2 linked regions of the Homo sapiens genome follow. The protein of the gene in region 2 purifies or fractionates together with the protein of the main gene of each other region. This does not show direct contact. Each region holds a gene or a part of one and is shown on either strand. Other genes may lie near its edges.

The links. Proteins that work in one complex are often made in the same cells at the same time.
Region 1: the proteins of THOC5 (region 2) and POLDIP3 purify together in Homo sapiens (affinity purification with mass spectrometry; one large-scale study listed by BioGRID and IntAct). This does not show direct contact.

Annotation. Positions count from the first base shown.
Region 1 is NC_000022.11:42,604,884-42,608,383, forward strand, and holds part of POLDIP3 (polymerase delta-interacting protein 3), read right to left. Parts: intron 1-3,500. UniProt on the Homo sapiens protein: Is involved in regulation of translation. Is preferentially associated with CBC-bound spliced mRNA-protein complexes during the pioneer round of mRNA translation. Contributes to enhanced translational efficiency of spliced over nonspliced mRNAs.
Region 2 is NC_000022.11:29,550,958-29,555,157, forward strand, and holds the start of THOC5 (THO complex subunit 5), read right to left. Parts: upstream 2,801-4,200; 5' UTR 2,714-2,800; intron 2,699-2,713; exon of another isoform or gene 2,491-2,698; intron 1-2,490. UniProt on the Homo sapiens protein: Component of the THO subcomplex of the TREX complex which is thought to couple mRNA transcription, processing and nuclear export, and which specifically associates with spliced mRNA and not with unspliced pre-mRNA.

The sequences.
Region 1 (3,500 bases), about 13 Mb from region 2:
TAGAAGGTGGTGGCCTTTGGGAAGTGATTAAGTCATGAGGACAGAGACTTCACAAATGGGATTAGTGCCCTTTATAAGGAAGAAGCCCCAGAAAGCTCCTTGGCCCCTTCCACCATGTCAGGACTCAGCAAAAAGACCATCTACAACCAGGAAGCAGGCAGGCCCTCATCAGACATGGAATCTGCCAGCATCCTGATCCTGGACTTCCCAGACTCTCTGTGACAAGGAAGTTTCTTTTCTTCAGTTTTGTTTTGTTTTGTTTGAGATGGAGTCTTGCTCTGTCATCCAGGCTGGAGTGCAGTGGCGCAATCTTGGCTCACCGCAAGCTCCGCCTCCCGGGTTCATGCCATTCTCCTGCGCCAGCCTCCCAAGTAGCTGGGACTACAGGCGCCCGCCACCACGGCCGGCTAATTTTTTGCATTTTTAGTAAAGATGGGGTTTCACCGTGTTAGCCAGGATGCTGTCGATCTCCTGACCTCGTGATCCGCCTGCCTTGGCCTCCAAAGCGTTACGATTACAGGCGTGAGCCACTGCGCCCGGCAGTTTCTGTTTTTTATAAGTTACCCAGCTTAGGGTATTTTCTTATAGTAGCCTAAACGGACTAAAACAGGCAGTGATGCATGCTATCATTTTTCTCTTTGGAGTGGCAAATTCAGATTTAAAGATTTTCCAGTGGGTTCTGGGTAGAAGGGTCATTTATACAATTAATCAGATAAGGCTTAAGGTTTACTTGGCCATTCCTGTCCTATTTTTTTAATGTGAGGACTCTGGGAGATGGAGGCACTAGAGAAAGCAGGGCCAAAGGAAGGGAGTGTTCAGGGGGTCGGCATGCACGATTAGAAAGAAATGGTTGTATGTGGTAGATGGCATCCACCCTCCCTAGGACTGGGCTACCCTAGGCTTCGTGTTCCATGGCCTACAAAGCCATAGACAAACTGGGACTATGCTTTGGGGTGACCTCAGAAACTTGCAGCTAGGCCAGGCACAGTGACTCACACCTGTAATCCCAGCACTTTGGGAGGCCGAGGCTGATGGATTACTTGAGGTGAGGTGTTCAAGACCTGCCTGGCCAACATGGTGAAACCCCGTCCCTACTAAAAATACAAAAATTAGCCAGACGTGGTGGCACGCGCCTATAATCCTAGCTACTCGGAAGGCTGAGGCAGGAGAATCAGTTGAACCCAGGAGATGGAGGTTACAGCAAGCCAAGATCACACCACTGCACTCCAGCCTGGGCGACAGAGCAAGACTCTGTTTCAAAAAAAATAAAGGACATGATCAATGAAAACTTCTGAGTATTACTCACTACAGGTTGACAATTTTTCACACAGACTTTTTTTTTTTTTTAAGAAACAAGGCTGGGCACAGTGGCTCATGCCTGTAATCTCAGCACTTTGGGAGGCCAAATGGCAGGATGGCTTGAGCCCAGGAGATCGAGAACAGCACGGGCAACATAGCGAGACTCCCTGGGCATGGTGGCTCACACCATGTAATCTCAGCACTTTGGAAAGCTGAGGCAGGAGGATGGCTTGAGCCCAGGAGTTCAGGACCAGCCTGGGCAATATAGTGAGACTCCATCTCTATAAAAATGAAAGCAGAAAATTATCTGGGCATGGCAGCATGAGTCTACTCCACAGGCTGAAGCAGGAAGACCACCTGAGCCCCAGACTGCAATGTTGCCGTGAGCCAGGATCGAGATACTGTCCTCCAGGCTGGACAACAGAGCAAGACCCTGTCTCAAAAACATATTTTAAAAAATTTAAAAGGACAGAATCTCATTCTGCTGCTCAGGATGGAGTGCAGTGATCATAGCTCACTACAGCCTTGACCTCCTGCCTCAGCCTTCTAAGTATGGAGCCACCATGCCCAGCTTTAGACGTCCTTTAAATGTTACAACCCCGTGAATCAGGTTATTGTTCACATCTTATAAATGAGGAAACTCAGAACCAAGGAGATTAACTATCCCAAGAGCTACTAAGGGGTGAGGAATGGACTTGAACTTCACTGTACCTGGTTCAAGCATCAATTAAATAAGCATGGGTCAAGAGTAAACAGCAGAGCTGGAAGAGTTAAGAAAAAAACTTCTAAAAAATAAAAAACACCAGGAGCAGTAGCTCATGCCTGTAATCCCAACACTTTGGGAGGCCAAGGCGGGCAGATCGCTTGAGCCCAGGTGTTCGAAACCAGCCTGGGCAACATGGCAAAACCCTGTCTCTACAAAAGATACAAAAAAAATTCCCTCCCCCTCCCCCTCTCCCCAGTTTCCCTCTGATGCCGAGCCGAGGCTGGACTGTACTGCCGCCATCTCGGCTCACTGCAGCCTCCCTGCCTGATTCTCCTGCCTCAGCCTGCCGAGTGCCTGGGATTGCAGGCGCGCACCGCCATGCCTGACTGGTTTTTGTATTTTTTGGTGGAGACGGGGTTTCGCTGTGTTGGCCGGGCTGGTCTCCAGCTCCCGACCGCAAGTGATCTGCCTGCCTCGGCCTCCCGAGGTGCCGGGATTGCAGACGGAGTCTCGCTCAATCAGTGCTCGTTGCCCAGGCTGGAATGCAGTGGAGTGATCTCGGCTCGCTACAACCTCCACCTCCCAGCCGCCTGCCTTGGCCTCCCAAAGTGCCGAGATTGCAGCCTCTGCCCGGCTGCCACCCCGTCTGGGAAGTGAGGAGCGTCTCTGCCTGGCCGCCCATCGTCTGGGATGTGAGGAGCCCCTCTGCCCGGCCGTCCAGTCTGGGAAGTGAGGAGCGCCTCTTCCCGGCCGCCATCCCATCTAGGAAGTGAGGAGCGTCTCGGCCCGGCCGTCCATCGTCTGAGATGTGGGGAGAGCCTCTGCCCCGCTGCCCCGTCTGGGATGTGAGGAGCGCCTCTGCCCGGCCGCGACCCCATCTGGGAACTGAGGAGTGTCTCTGCCCGACCGCCACCCCGTCTGGGAGGTGAGGAGCTTCTCTGCCCGGCCACCCCGTCTGGGAAGTGAGGAGCCCCTCCGCCCAGCAGCCGCCCCGTCTGGGAAGTGAGGAGCGTCTCCGCCCGGCAGCCGCCCCGTCTGGGAGGGAGGTGGGGGGCAGCCCCCGCACAGCCAGCCGCCCTGTTCGGGAGGTGGGGGGCGCCTCCACCCAGCCACCACCCCGTCTGGGAAGTGAGGAGCCCCTCTGCCCGGCCGCCACCCCGTCTGGGAGGTGTACCCAACAGCTCATTGAGAACGGGCCATGAAGACGATGGCGGTTTTGTCGAATAGAAAAGGGGGAAATGTGGGGAAAAGAGAGATCAGATTGTTACTGTGTCTGTGTAGAAAGAAGTAGACGTGGGAGACTTCATTTTGTTCTGTACTAAGAAAAATTCTTCTGCCTTGGGATGCTGTTAATCTATAACCTTACCCCCCCCCCCAAAAAAAAATTAGCTGCAAGTGATGATGCACATCTGTAGTCCCAGCTACTCAGAAGGCCAAGGCAGGAGGATCAACTAAGCCCAGGAGGTCCAGGCTGCAGTGAGCCAAGATCACACCA
Region 2 (4,200 bases):
TGTAACAAAAGAACTCTATCCCACAGCCTTAAACAACAAAATCTAGCCAGAGTTTGTTAACAATGATCTAGTTGCATTATATTAACTATATTAATTTTTACCTTCTACATAAAACAAGTGAAAGCAGCTTTCCATTTCTGGTGGAGAGATTTCAAGTTTTCTCTCAAAGTAAATTTGAGTTTAAAAAGTGACTTGGCTGGGCGCAGTGGCTCAGGCCTGTAATCCCAGCACTTTGGGAGGCTGAGGCGGGTGGATCACCTGAGGTCAGGAGTTTGAGACCAGCCTGGCCAACATGGTGAAACCCCGTCAGTACCACAAATACAAAAATTAGCCGGGAGTGGAGGCGGGCGCCTGTAATCTCAGCTACTCAGGAGGCTGAGGTAGGAGAATCACTTGAACCCAGGGAGCAGAGGTTGCAATGAGCCGAGATCGCAGCCACTTCACTCCAGCCTGGGCAACAGAGCGAGATTCAGTCTCAACAACAACAAAAAAAGTGACTGGGCCCAACACCATGGCTCACACCTGTAATCCCAACACTTTGGGAAACCAAGGCAAGCAGAGGTGAGAGAATCGCTTGAGCCCAGGCGTTCAAGACCAGAGTGGGCAACAGAGCGAGACCCCATCTTTAGAAAACATTTTAAAATTAGCCTAGTATGGCGGTGCACACCTGTGGTCCCAAGCTACTCTGGAGGCTAGGGTGGGAGGATGGCTTGAGCCCAGAAGTTCCAGGCTGCAGTGAGCTATGATCGCGCCACTGCACTCAGTCTTGACAACAGAGATCCCGTTGCAAAAAAAAAATTTGGACTGGATTAAAAATTTTTAGTAAACCCCTCCCCCTCCCCCCTCCCCCTCTCTCCACGGTCTCCCTCTGATGCCGAGCCGAAGCTGGACTGTACTGCGGCCATCTCGGCTCACTGGAACCTCTCTGCCTGATTCTCCTGCCTCAGCCTGCCGAGTGCCTGCAATTGCAGGCGCGCGCCGCCACGCCTGACTGGTTTTCGTATTTTTTGGTGGAGACGGGGTTTCGCTGTGTTGGCCAGGCTGGTCTCCAGCTCCTGACCGCGAGTGATCGGCCAGCCTCGGCCTCCCGAGGTGCCAGGATTGCAGACGGAGTCTCGTTCACTCAGTGCTCAATGGTGCCCAGGCTGGAGTGCAGTGGCGTGATCTCGGCTCGCTACAACCTCCACCTCCCAGCCGCCTGCCTTGGCCTCCCAAAGTGCCAAGATTGCAGCCTCTGCCCGGCCGCCACCCCGTCTGGGAAGTGAGGAGCGTCTCTGCCCGGCTGCCCATCATCTGGGATGTGAGGAGCCCCTCTGCCCGGCTGCCCAGTCTGGGAAGTGAGGAGCACCTCTTCCCGGACCCCATCCCGTCTAGGAAGTGAGGAGTGTCTCTGCCCGGCCGCCCATCATCTCAGATGTGGGGAGCACCTCTGCCCCGCCGCCCCGTCTGGGATGTGAGGAGCACCTCTGCCCGGCTGCGACCCCGTCTGGGAGGTGAGGAGCGTCTCTGCCCGGCTGCCCCGTCTGAGAGGTGAGGAGCCCCTCCACCCAGCAGCCGCCCCGTCCGGGAGGTGGGGGGCAGCCCCCGCCCGGCCAGCCGCCCCGTCCGGGGGGGAGGTGGGGGCCAGCCCCAGCCCGGCCAGCCGCCCCGTCGGGTCGGGGGTAGGGGGGCGCCTCCGCCTGGCCGCCACCCCGTCCGGGAGGTGGGGGGCGCCTCTGCCCGGCCGCCCCTTCTGGGAGGTGAGGAGCCCCTCTGCCTGGCCGCCACCCCGTCTGGGAGGTGTACCCAACAGCTCATTGAGAACGGGCCATGATGACGATGGCGGTTTTGTCTAGTAGAGAGGGGGGAAATGTGGGGAAAAGATAGAGAAATCGGATTGTTGCTGTGTCTGTGTGGAGAGAGGTGGACAAGGGAGACTCCATTTTGTTCTGTACTGAGAGAAATTCTTCTGCCTTGGGATGCTGTTGGTCTATAGCCTTACCCCCAACCCCGTGCTCTCTGAAACATGTGCTGTGTCCACTCAGGGTTAAATGGATTAAGGGCGGGGCAAGATGTGCTTTGTTAAACAGAAGCTTGAAGGCAGCATGCTCCTTAAGAGTCATCACCACTCCCTAATCTCAAGTACCCAGGGACACAAACACTGCGGAAGGCTGCAGGGTCCTCTGCCTAGGAAAACCAGAGACCTTTGTTCACTTGTTTATCTGCTGACCTTCCCTCCACTATTGTCCTATGACCCTGCCAAATCCCCTCTGCGAGAAACACCCAAGAATTATCAATAAATACTAAAACAAACAAACAAACAAATTTTTAATAAACGGTAGTAGAGGTGGTAAGTTGATCTGGCAAAGCCTACAAAGACCGGACCTGAAAGGCTTAAGTGTGGGAAATCCTGACTTTGGCAACACAGTAGAGTGCCTGGCACACCGAAGAGCACGATATATGTGAGCTGTTACCATCACCACCACCCCCACCCCCATCAGGCTACATTACCACAATCAAGAGGCTCCAACGTGAAGCCTGAGGATGCTGCAGCGAACACTTTTCGGATGAGGTAACAGCGCAGCGCCGAGAGGCCGGGGACCGCGGGTAGTGAGGGAGGAGAAGCCGGGTCAGACCCCAGCCCAGGGGCGCCCTTTGGGCGATCAGCACCTCAGTCCCGGAGCGCCCAGCCCCGCCCCATCTCCCAGCCCCACTGCCCTTGTCCCCTCCTCACCTCACAGCTCCAAGAACCTGGCACCGGGAGTAAGCCACTGCCGGAGGCGGAGCAAAGCTTGCCCGCGCACCATAGAGAACCGGAAGTAAGGAAGGGGCGGCCGACCGGAAGCGAGGCGTAGAGGCCGGAAGCTCAGCGCGGAGGCCCCCGAGGGAGGTGGTGGCGTGGTGAGACTGTAAAAACAAAGACACATGCTTCTCGTTCACTGTGCCCAGGGCCTAAGAGAGTGTCCAGCAGCTAGTGGGCGCTCCACCGAGTAGTTGAATTAATGTTGTGTTATGTCCAAGATAACACGAAAGAACCTGGTAGCGCGGCGGGGAAGATTTCGGCGCTAGAGGATTTGCCTGCATAACCTTACTTCTTAATTATTATTTTTACCATAATATGCCACGCCAGTGAAGGCAACAAGTCAGGGAGGGCATTAACCTCATTTTACACTTGGCTTTTTGAGGAGTGCATCACCAGTTTCTCCATTTTAGGCCTGACTTGCCCAGGACAGAGTCACAACTCTAACGCAGTATTTGAAAGCTTCAGGTATTTCCTACCCCTGGCATGAACTGTACAAACAAGGCCCAGGATTTTTTCGTGTAAATCCTCATCTGGAGCTAGTAACACGTGTCCTGAATCCCTGGTTGTACGGGGCCAGTTCCTTCTCCTTCCCAGGAGCAAGGAGGAAAATACTGGCTCTTTTTTATTTTTATTTTTATTTGAGACAGAGTTTTGCTCTCTCACCCAGGCTGAAGTGCAGTGGCGCAATCCCCGCTCACTGCAAACTCCGACTCCAGGGTTTAAAGGATTCTCCTGCCTCAGCCTCCTAAGTAGCTGGGATTACAGGCATGCACCACCATGCCCAGCTAATTTTTGTATTTTTAGTAGAGACAGGGTTTCACCATGTTGCCCAGGCTGGTCTTGAACTCCTGACCTCACTCAAGTGATCTGCCCACCTCGGACTTCCAAAATGCTGGGATTACAGGCGTGAGCCACTGCACCCAACCAGTACTGACTGTTGAGAATAGCTCAAGAACACAGTACCCTCCAGGAGGGTAGATCTGCCATGTGGGACTAAGCCCACCAGCTCTACTGTGCCCTGCCTCAGGCACCTGCTAAAGTTCCTTGCAGATGAAGAAAAGACACTGATTTATAGTAAATATTTAATTGTTTCCATCAGCAATTCCAGCACAAGTTTTCCTGGATGGTAGGCAGAATCAAGCTACCCAAGGGTTCATGATGAGGTATGGGGGTCACTGAGGAGACCCCCAGAGTCACTGACCCCTCCCGCCACCTCCACACACCAGGTGGCCCTGCAGAATGAGGGTTGGGCTGATAGAATGTCAATTAGGGGAGACAGGATACAGGGTGAGGGAACAGGGTCTAGCTTGTATATTTGCCTGCAGGAAGGAGGGAGGGCAGGAGAGACTCTGCATAGAAGGACTGGAACTACACATTTAAGTTTTCAACCCCAATATGCAGGGGGAAACAGCCAAGCC